Homo sapiens: one gene and its partner. The protein of the gene in region 2 interacts with the protein of the main gene of each other region in a biochemical or structural test. Each region holds a gene or a part of one and is shown on either strand. Other genes may lie near its edges. The genes, in order: RNF32 and PRAM1.

The links.
Region 1: the proteins of PRAM1 (region 2) and RNF32 form a complex in vitro, tested with the Homo sapiens proteins (one study listed by BioGRID and IntAct).

The regions. Positions count from the first base shown.
Region 1 is NC_000007.14:156,636,504-156,644,052, reverse strand, and holds the start of RNF32 (RING finger protein 32), read right to left. Parts: upstream 3,280-7,549; 5' UTR 3,242-3,279; exon of another isoform or gene 2,019-3,241; intron 1,077-2,018; exon of another isoform or gene 966-1,076; intron 253-965; 5' UTR 176-252; coding exon 161-175; intron 1-160. UniProt on the Homo sapiens protein: May play a role in sperm formation.
Region 2 is NC_000019.10:8,489,528-8,492,908, forward strand, and holds the end of PRAM1 (PML-RARA-regulated adapter molecule 1), read right to left. Parts: intron 1,631-3,381; coding exon 1,573-1,630; intron 1,469-1,572; coding exon 1,360-1,468; intron 1,230-1,359; coding exon 1,067-1,229; intron 983-1,066; coding exon 949-982; intron 846-948; coding exon 811-845; coding exon of another isoform or gene 700-810; coding exon 662-699; 3' UTR 529-661; downstream 1-528. UniProt on the Homo sapiens protein: May be involved in myeloid differentiation. May be involved in integrin signaling in neutrophils. Binds to PtdIns(4)P.

The DNA of each region.
Region 1 (7,549 bases), on a different chromosome or scaffold from region 2:
CTTGTCCACTGCCCCATGCGACACTTGGCATCGCCCATTCCTGCTGACAATTCCTAGTTCAAGCAGGGTTTGCAAACTAGTTTTTATACTCTCAAATGGCTGAATTAAAATACATTTCATGAGTCAAATAACGTGTATGTTTAAGAAAAGAATAGCGTACCTTATTTTTTAACATGCCGAATTAGGAAAAGTTGTTGCTTGGCTATCACAAATTCTATCATCACATCCTATCACCTTCCTTCTATTCTTCTGCTGCAAAGACGTGGTCAACAGAAAGTCAAAGTTACAGTGCACAGAAAAACCATGAAGTTTGTGAGGATGCTCTGTAAGAGTCTAACAGATCCTGAAGCAGCAGGAATGCCTGCTACAGGGTGGCACTAAGCTACACATTCTGGTTCTGGAGGAAGGGGGTGAACTCAAGTCAGTTATGCTTCGACTCATCCCTGTCCTCAAATAGTTCACCCCTGAGCTCCTGAGGACACATTAATACAAATGGTTAATTACTATGAATTAATCCATTGCTAAATATAACATGATACATAAGTACTACAAAACTTCAGGCTAACACTGGAGACTTGGAAAAACCAGTTAAACTGGCATTTGAAAGATACACAGAGGGAAATGAAGATGGCACATTACAGGTAGGAGGAAAGAACTGGCAGGCTGGAAATCAGCATGATATGCTTATTTTGGGGAGAAAGGGAACAATGAAGAAACTGGAACGCAAGAGGAACACTGGCTAACTTCAGTCTGTCCAGAACACAGAAGTACAGAATATGGGGACAGACCAACTTGAGTTCCAATTGAACTCTACCGCTTTGCTGCGCAAGATACTGGACACAGCTGAGCCCCAGGCTCCTCATCTATAAAGCAGGTATAATAACGCTGGCTTTGCAGGGTTGCCGCAAGGATTAATGAGACAACCTTTGAAGTATCTAAAGTAGGTCTTTTCACACAGAACTTACTCTTGTTATTCTTGCTTCAATTCCCTTCAAAGCTGGTGGAATAATTTGGAATTGGCCCTTTTAGATTTTGGACATGGTGTATTTTATGAAGACAGATGTATTCAAAATATACTGTGATGAGGAGAAATAGAAAGTTATTCAAGTAATCTAGGAACTGGCACAGAAGGCCCTTGAACATATTTCTTCTAATGTTGTTTCCCTATAACGCTGATGAGAAAAAAAATTGATCCCCAGCAGGGGCCACTGTCTGTTTGGAGTTTGCACGTCCTCCCCATGTGCTGTGGGTTTCCTCCAGGTACCCCGGGTTCCTCCCACATCCCAAAGCTGTGCACGTGAGGCTCACTGGGGCGTCCCCGTCTGAGTGAGTGTGAGTGTGCCCTGCCATGGGATGCCGTCCTCTCCAGGACTGTTGCCCGCCTTGGTCCTGAGCTGCCTGGATGGGCTCAGCCCCCTGCCACCCTGAACTGGAATAAGCAGGTTGGAAAATGAAAGGATACAAATTATTGTCAAATAAAAACTCGTAAAGCATACGGTATTCACACAGAGATGCAGGACAATACCCGATGCAGTAAGAAAGGCCCAGCGGGCTGAGAAGTGGCTCCTGTTTGTTTTGAAACTGCATGGTAGGGGGAGGTGCTTCAGAGCTTTGGCTTGGCCAACATTATCTTTAACACAGCCCCTCCACAACCCGGTCACTCATGGATTCACCAGAAATTGGGTAATGATATTTCTTAAATGTAGAGCTCATATGTACTTCAGTGTTTCATATTAGAAGTGCTTTGGTCTTTATTTAGAAGTTTGGCGATGTTTTTGTGACCAGGAATGTGCTGTGGGAACTTTCCTCTTATTTATATCAATTAACCTATGGTGAAACTGGTTTCCTTGTACACTGCATGGCTTAAAGCTCCAGTTTCTAAGAACCTATGGATGATGTTAAGTGAAGACTTACTGTGTTGAGGGCCTAACTCTAAAAATAGAAAGAAATTAATCCAAAATGTATTTCTAAGGACTAACACTTGTATTAAATTACTCCAACCGAAAGAACAAACTCACTAAGGCGTGAGTGGAGAGATAGAAAAGCACAGTGGAACCAAATCTCTGAGATATCCAGGGTTAGAAGTAAAAACGTCAGTCGCTGCTCAAGTCCTGGAGGCTTTGATGATGGTTCTTACTACAGCCCTTTTCTGTTCCCGTTCAATTCTGGCATCAAGAGATGTTTGAAATAAGTTCCACCCTGTATCTCATCAAGACAACTGAACTTGGAGAAATGGTGGAATTTAAAATACTGAAAGATCACTGCCAGAATTTTCTCAGTTCCTGCTTCCAAAATGCCTATAACCTGCAGAAGATACAGTTTGCATCACACTAAAAATGGTCCGGTCATAGCTGCAGTCTGCAATTTAATCTCAAGTTTCTACACAGTAGACCACTGTCATTAATATCAAGGTAAGAGCTTTTAAAACCTATACTCTCTTAAAGTCCTACGGTATCATTAAGTTTTAGAGTTTAAAATTCAGAATTTAAAGGTATTGAAAACCCTTCAAGTACCTACTCCAACTCCACTTTATAAATGAGAAAACCAAATACCAGGTGAGTCCTTCAATATATAATGAGCCTGCGGCACTGGTAGGGTTAGAAACGTAACCCTTGCCCAGTATTGAAAGCTAAGATTAACAGGAACCCGTTGCTTTGTAAATCCCAGTATTAAACGCTCAAGAGGCAGAGCTTGGTGGCAAAAACGATCACTGGGGTGCCAAAGCGAGTAACCTCAGCTAATTAAACACGCTCAATAAAAATACACGAGACCAAGCCTACGACGTAAAGATGCAATCCTACGTAGGGTCTTGGTGTTATCTCCTGCCTTCTGAACCCCGCTGACCGTTTTCTGAGGTTCCACTCATGCAGGAAGCGCGCGGTGACGAGGCTCCAATTCCTCTCAAAGCTGACACCACCCTGCACCTGGGGCCCCTGATGGCAGCCGGTCCTACCGGGTTCTAAAATTACCGACGTGGGATCACTGTTCTAAGGCTTTAGGCAGCCGTAAATTCGTACCCCTCAGATAGAAGGAGCTGTGGAAACTAACCAGGACCCCGAGTCCCCCAAGGAGGCTGCGCGCCGCTACGGGACCCGACCTCGCCTCACAGCTGCGGCCATCGCCGGCCCGGCTCGGAGGAGGCGAAAGCGAGGCCGCGGACGGCCCTCACCCCGAATCCATGGACCCCGCCCGCCTGGCGGGCCACCCTTCTTTCCGTCCCTCCCCCGAAGCCTCTCCGTGCCTCGACTCCTCCGCGAACACCGGAACCCAGGGACGTCTGCCCCTTTTCCCTCAGGCAACTCCCTGGCCGCCCACCGTTGCCGTAGCAACGCCCGCCTCCGCGCTCGCTCCCCGCGGGCTTGCTCACCAGCCCTGCCCCGCCCCGCCCCATACTGCGCATGCTCGCCAGCCCCGCCCGGCCCACATTGCGCATGCTTGCCAACCACGCCCTGTCCACACCACACTGCGCATGCTCGCCGGCCCCCGCCCCGCGCACGGCGTCAGCGTCTAGACGCAGGTGCGTTCCCGTCGAGGCTCGCGCAGCGGGCGTTTTTGGGGATCGCCTGGCGGGGGTGTTCGGGAGCCGCGGGCTGAAGCACGGGGGCGTGCAGGCGCCCAGGCCTCGTGTAGTGAGGGCCGAGCCCCGCGCCGGCTTCGCTGTAGTCCGCAGCCCCCGGCGGCTTTGTGGGCGCAGCCACGCTCCTCAGCCGCCCGCCCACCTGGGCCTGGGCCCCGGTTGTTTCCCTGCGGTGGCTGTGGTCGTTCCCGTTCCAGGGTCTCGAGCGCACCGCCCCTTCGCTGCGCTGTTAGTCGAGGGCAGTTTTCTGGGGGATCCCCCGATCCCCCCGCGCCGCTCAGGCGTCTTGGCTCGCGGAAGCGCAGGCGCCGACTGCCTGGCGTCGTCCGTGACTCCTGGCCCTTCTCTGTGGATCCCTTTGCTTCTCGTTGCGGGTTGTGTTTCCTGCTTCGTGGGCCTGGCCGTTTGCGTTTGGATGCAGGCCCGGGTGAGCCCTGCGTGGCCCGCTGGCCTTTTCCTGCTCCCTAGGTGACTGAGCCGCGTGTGTGACACATCGGAGTGAATTGAGGCAACGCGTTCCTTTCCAGGCTTGCAGCGGGCGGTGTCGTTCACGCTCCTGAGCAGAGCCTTCCGGTGCTTTACTCGACGCCACAAATAGTGCAGGGTTCCTCCCAGGGGCTGTCGCGAGCTAGAACTCTTCCCCGCCCCTGTGAGCTCGGGCTGTTCTTCCTCCTCCGCGTGGCTCACTCCAGCCTCGGATGTTTCCTCGCTGCACAGACCTGCTCGGGAAGACTCGAGAAGGCCACCCCAGGACTCCAGCTCTCCCCGGAAGGGCTTCCCCTCGGATTGCGTCTTGGCCCCTGGAACCCTCCCTCTGTATCCTCTGCTGTTCCTCTCTTGGCCTCCATTTGGGTTGTGGCCTGGATACTCTGGCTCGCTGCTTCCCTTCTCTTAAGGATCACAGCCCTGCACTGCCTGTCGTCCGGTGCCTGGAAACCATTGTATTTTTTGGTCTGATTTTGTAGTTGTTTGAGAACTTAAGTCTGGTCCCTCACACTCCATGCCCAGAAGCAGAAATGAGTAAAGTTTGTTTTATCTTTTCTTAATATGACAATTATTGTGTTGGTTCAACTTATGTTGTACTTTAATTAGAAGAAATTTGGCCGAAAATACAAGGAAAATATACAAATGCAAGTAATTTTTTTTAAACTTCCCTGAAAGCAGGGTCTAAAGAAATTACCAACCAACTTAGACTGGATCTAGAAGAAAAGGAAGGGTCTTTGCAGTCTTAGGACTCTTCCGTTCCGCGACGTAGGTGTTAGGATAACAGCCATAAATGGTTGTAAGACTTTGGGCTCAGATAAGTAGACTTAAGTTCAAATTTTGACTTATTTTACAAGTGTGTGATTTTTGGCAAGCTCATCTTCCTAAACCATGAGCTCCTTATTTGTAAAGGGGACATTAGCCACTCTCCAGCAACAGCCCTGGTACTTCTTCAGTCCTGGGATGGGACGTATGATTAGCCTAAGCGAACCAGAAAATCCAGGCCCGTGACCAGTGACTTGATCAGGGCTGGCGATATATCTAGGTAGGCCAACCAGGTGGACTCAGTATTTTTGTGGGTGCTACTGGAAAATTTATTTAATTCTAACTGAATGTAGAAACAGCAACAGACATGAAATGGCAGTTGTATTGCTGTCTTATCATGAGGTGAGGGCCTGAAGCTATGGTAGCCACCCTGTGAACCTTGGAAGGAGGGTTCTACAGGAACTGGCAGAGCTGAGACTGGGACGCAACCCATGTCCTGGTGACGTATTTGAGTCCTGAGGCTGGCCCTCCTGTTAGTCTTTTCTCTTACTGGCTTCAGCCAGATGGGGTCTGGTTTTCTGTTACTTGCAACAGGAAAAATTGGAATGATATCTATGCATGCTATTACCGCCTTATGGCTGTGGTGAGATTAAAACATGATACTGTGGGTGAACTGCTTAGTACAGTGCCTGCTATTCTTTATGTTGGTTTTAAGGTATTTTTCTTGAACTTTAAAGTTCTAAGAAAAATTACCGTTTTAAAATTCCTACCCTCTGTTCACATGTTTAAATTTTCATGATAGTTTTTCTGTCTGCATGTTTTCTATTCAAAATAAATTGGTCATTCTTCAGTTAGCCACGAAGAATATTGTGAATTTTTTATTTTTAAATTTATTTTTTATTGATACATATTAGATGAACATGTTTTTGGATAACGTGATAATTCGATAAATTCATAAAATCAAATCAGGGTAATTGGGATATCCATCCCCTTAAATATTTATCTTCTATTTACACTAGGAACATTCAAATTATTCTAGCTATTTTGAAATGTGCAATCGATTTGTGTTAAGTATAGGCTTGACTGAAAATTTAACCTTATTGCTTTCTAATTCTTGACAAAAACAAAGCTAACATAGTTGATATTTGAAGAATACATTCATTCTTCAAGATAGTGTGTTCTGTTGAAATGAGTTAGATGATCAGAATGCAACATTCTTGGATAGGGATAATTAAAAATATAGTCAACCTATCTTGTCCCCAAAACCATGTTATCAATGATTTGTATTTTAACATTATGCCTTTTGTTTTAAAAAAGTTTTTTTGTTTTTTTGAGATGGGCCTGAGAAACTGCATGTATACAAAGCATGTTTACATCTTCAGAAAACTGCTATTGAGTACATTCTCCATGGTGCTGTTCAGTGCCATTTGTGTAAGCACCCACATGATTGTTTTAGAATTTCAAAACCACTAATTGAATGTCCTAGGAATAGTGGAGACGGAAGAGAAAATTAGAGGTGCATGATGTTAAGGATGTTGAGGTGCTTAGTCACAAGGAGAAGGGCACCAGTGTACTTGGCTGATTAAGATGCACTTCTGTACTCCACTGTGCTTAAGAAGAAAGCTGCGGGTGGTACTCTAAGAGATCTGTTGTATAAACATTATCACAAAAAGAGTGATGATACCTGTGCTTATCCAAGGAAGAGCAGCCCAAGATGGATGGCAATAGCGGACTATTTAAGTGGAAGACATTGATATGAAGGGAAAATCTTATATTTTGCTTGTGTAGAGCGCAATTCACAGAAAGTGTTCAAATACTAGAATAGGCAGTTGGAGTCCAGCTTGTGGAAGATGGGGTTTTCTTCATGATGACACTAGAGATCATGATATTGGATACTAGTGCTGGCCCTGTATTTTTATTTATTTATTTATTTATTTATTTATTTATTTATTTATTTATTTATTTTGAGACAGAGTCTCTGTTGCCCAGGCTGGAATGCAGTGGCGCCATCTCGGCTCACTGCAACTTCTGCCTCCCAGGATCAAGTAATTCTCCTGTCTTAGCCTCCCGAATAGCTGGGATTACAGGTGCCCGTCACCACGCTTAGCTAATTTTTGTATTTTTTAGTAGAGTCGGGGTTTCGCTATGTTGGCCAGGCTGGTCTTGAACTTCTGACCTCAGGTGATCCGCCTGCCTCGGCCTCCCAAAGTGCTGGGATTACAGGCGTGAACCACCGTGCCTGGCCTATGGATTCTTAATGTATCATACCCATAATATTTGAATTTGCCCACCTGCCTAGTCTCTAAACACTGCACTAATGAAAGCCTAGGCAGGGTCAGAATGGTTCTTAGTTCAATATCCTTCTCACATTTTAGTATCTTAATGCTCTCACATTTCTCCTTTGTTATGTACAAAATATTCTCAAAGCCTACTCAGTGCCTATTTGACTCTTGTCTCTCTTAACACAGTCCTTGACATCTAAAACAAACCTAAGGAGCAGAAATTGGTGGCATGGGGTTCATCTTTAATTTAGTTCTCAATTTTAACCTTCACCAAAACCATCTCTCCATTTATTTTTCTTAATCTTCTGTATTACCTTTAACTTTCTACTCACACTTGTATATTTATTTATTTATTTATTTTTTCTTTCTTTATTATTATTCTTTAAGTTTTAGGGTACATGTGCACAATGTGCAGGTTAGTTACATATGTATACATGTGCCA
Region 2 (3,381 bases):
GTCTCCCTGTTGTGAAGTTAACGCCCTGGGGCACAGGCCCTGCCTGAGTCAGGCTTGTTCTCTGGCTTTTTTTTTTTCCTGCTGAAACAGACCAAACTGTGTGCCACCTTCCATGCGTGTTCAGTCCTGCCAGAGGCTCAGGCCAAATCTGATTGATACCTGGGCTCTGTCAGAATTGGGTATAGGCCCCACCCCTTCCCCCAGTGAAGCGCTCTCAGGATCCACTCAGGCCAAGCAGGTGTGCATACCTGGCAAGGAGGCCTGGCTGCTGCTGTTCTGTTGGCTGTGGAGGGGCGCGTCCTGCCCGGCTGCCTGCCTGGTAGCACATGCTGTTCTGATCACCCGGAGCCCCCCTTGCTCACCAGCTTCTTGCCACCCTTTTCTCCCCACTGGCTTTTATCCCTGAGGGGTGAGACCATGGCAGGGTGACCCCAGACACACCCCCTTTTGTGTTTGGTCAGGGGGTTCCCGTGCCTTTGCTCCACTGTGTGCCAATCAGGAGGGAAAGAAAAGACAAGAAGCAGGGACTGCTTTAAACTGGGGCTTTATGTGGCCAGGTACAAGCCCAGGCAGCTCTGTGACTTTCCCGCGCCGGGATCCAGGGCTCCTGGGTGAGCGGGCGCTGGGCTGGCTGGCTGTCCTGGCCCCACGCCTACCGGTCTTACCGTCCCAGGGGGAGTGGTTGGTTTTCCAGGGGATCTGCCGAGGAAGCGTGACTTCCATGGACCCCTCTCCCCAGAAGCCCAATAGTGAGCAGCGCCCCCGGGGAATCGCCAGGGTCCCTCCAGCCCTCCCAGAGTGTCCACGTACCGCAGAAGTCGACATCATCGTACACCTCCGTCTCCCTGGCAGAGCACAGTTGGGTCAGCAAGGGGCACCGTGGCCCATTCCCCCCACCCTGCACCACACACCCCGCACTCCCCCACCACGGTCAGGGCTGGCACTCACAGGGGCAGGAGCGCTGTTCTGGGCACGTAGCCATCTGTGGAGAGAGTGGGCATGGTGGGTTCTGAGGCCCAGGGTGGCGGCGGGGACCTCCCGGGGCTGCGGGGCCGGGCGCACTCACATTTGCCTTTGGGGTCCCGGCACAGCATCTCCTCATTGCTGGTGAACTCGATCACCTCCAGGATCTCCCCGCGCCGGATCCCGAGGTGCTTGCCACCCCCGCGACGTGTCTTAGCGTTGGGGTCGATCATCATCTTCGTGTGAACCACGATCTCCCCTTCAAACTGGGGCGCGAGATGTTAGGGCCTCTGCTTGTGCTGCCGCCCTTGGGCCCCTGTCTTCTTTCTGAGCCTGGGATCGGTGGGACCCTGGTCTCCGCCCTGCCAGGACTCCTGCTTAGCTCAGAGGCCTCACCTTGAACTTCTTCCGGAACTCCCTCTCGGCCTTCTCTGCCTTCCTCAGCTGCTTCAGCAACTTTGGGTCCATGGGTGGCAACTGCTGTGGCTGGGGATCCTTCTCCTTCCTGATAGCCCCCACCAAGGAATTGTGTGCTCGTGAGCAAGTTGTGCTCCTCTGGGGGTTCCTGGAGCTCGCCCCCCGTCTGCCCACCCCCTCTGCCCATGGCACCTGAGCGCTGGGTCTTGTGGTGGCCTCCTGGCGGCTTGCTGAACTGAGGGCGCTTCATCTGGGGACAGTCAGGACTCCGAGTCAAGGCAGGGCCCGCCGGCTCAGCCTTTACCCTGGTAGCTGTTTTTTGTTTGTTTTTGTGTTTTTGTTTTGAGACGAAGTCTTGCTCTGTCACCCAGGCTGGAGTGCAATGGCACAATCTCGGCTCACTGCAACCTTCGCCTCCTGGGTTCAAGCGATTCTCCTACCTCAGGCTCCCGAGTAGCTGGGATTACAGGTGTCCATCACCACACCTGGCTGATTTTTGTATTTTTAACACAGACAGGTTTCACCATGTGGGCCAGGCTGGTCTTGAACTCCTGACCTCAGGCAATCCACTCGCCTCGGCCTCCTAAAGTGCTGGGATTACAGGCGTGAGCCACTGCGCCTGGCAGGTGGCTGGATCTTGAGTAAGGCCTCCCTGTGTCAGTTCTGAGGACTCCCCAAATCCCACCAGGTCCCCTCCCAAACCTCTCCCTGCCCACCTTCTTCCGCAAGCCTTTCTCAGGGGTCATGGGTTCTTCTGGATTGCCTTCCATTCCCTTAACTCCTGCCACGTGCTCAGCATGGTGGGAACTGCTGGGCCACGCCCCTCATGGCAGCCCTCTCAGCAACCTTGTTCATGCCAGTAGACGCCACTGTCATGCCCAACTTGTCCACAAGGAAATAAAGGCTCAGAGAGGTCAAGCAAACTGCCCAAGGTCACCCAGCTGGTAAATGGTAAAGGCAGGATTTATCTGTAGGCTTCGAGGCCATTTCACTTCTGCCTCCTAGAGCAAGTTGGGTCTAGGGTTCTTTTTTATTTTTTGAGACGGAGTTTTGCTCTTGTTGCCCAGGCTAGAGTGTGCAATGGCGCGATCTCAGCTCACTGCAACCTCCACCTCCTGGGTTCAAGCGATTCTCCTCCCTCAACCTCCCAAGTAGGTGGGATTACAGGCACATGCCACCACACCCGGCTAATTTTTTTTTTTATTTTTAGTAGAGACGGGTTTCACCATGTTGGCCAGGCTGGTCTCAAACTCCTGACCTCAGGTGATCCACCCGCCTCGGCCTCCCAAAGTGCTGGGATTATAGGCGTGAGCCACCGTGCCTAGCCGTTTTTTTTTTTGTTTCTTTTGTTTTTGTTTTTGTTTTTGAGACGGAGTTTCATTCTTGTTGCCCAGGCTGGAGTGCAATGGCATGATCTCAGCTCACTGCAACCTCTGCCTCCTGGGTTCAAGCGATTCTCCTGCCTCAGCATCCTGAGTAGCTGGGATTATAAGCACCCACTGCCACACCCAGCTGATTTTTGTATTTTTAGTACAGATGAGGTTTCGTCATGTTGGCCAGGCTGGTCTCTAACTCCTGACCTCAGGTGATGCCCCTGCCTCAGCCTCCCAAAGTGCTGGGATTACAGGCCTGAGCCACTGCACCCGGTAGGTTCTGGGGTTCTACTGTAATGAGATTTGGGTGAAAAACTAAGGCAGAAGGGAGGATGAGGAGAGGCTGGCCCATGGGTACAAAGTTACAGTTAGGAAGAAGAAATTGGGTGTTCCATTGCACAGGAGGGCAATGATAGTTGACAGTAAAATATCATGGCCAGGCATGGTGGCTCATGCCTGTCATCCCAGCACTTTGGGAGGCCAAGTCGGGCAGATCACTTGAGGTCAGGAGTTTGACAGCAGCCTGGCCAACATGGTGAAACCCTGTCTCTACTAAAAATACAAAAATTAGACGGGTGTGGTGGTGGGCGCCCATAATGCCAGCTACTCAGGAGGCTGAGGCAGGAGA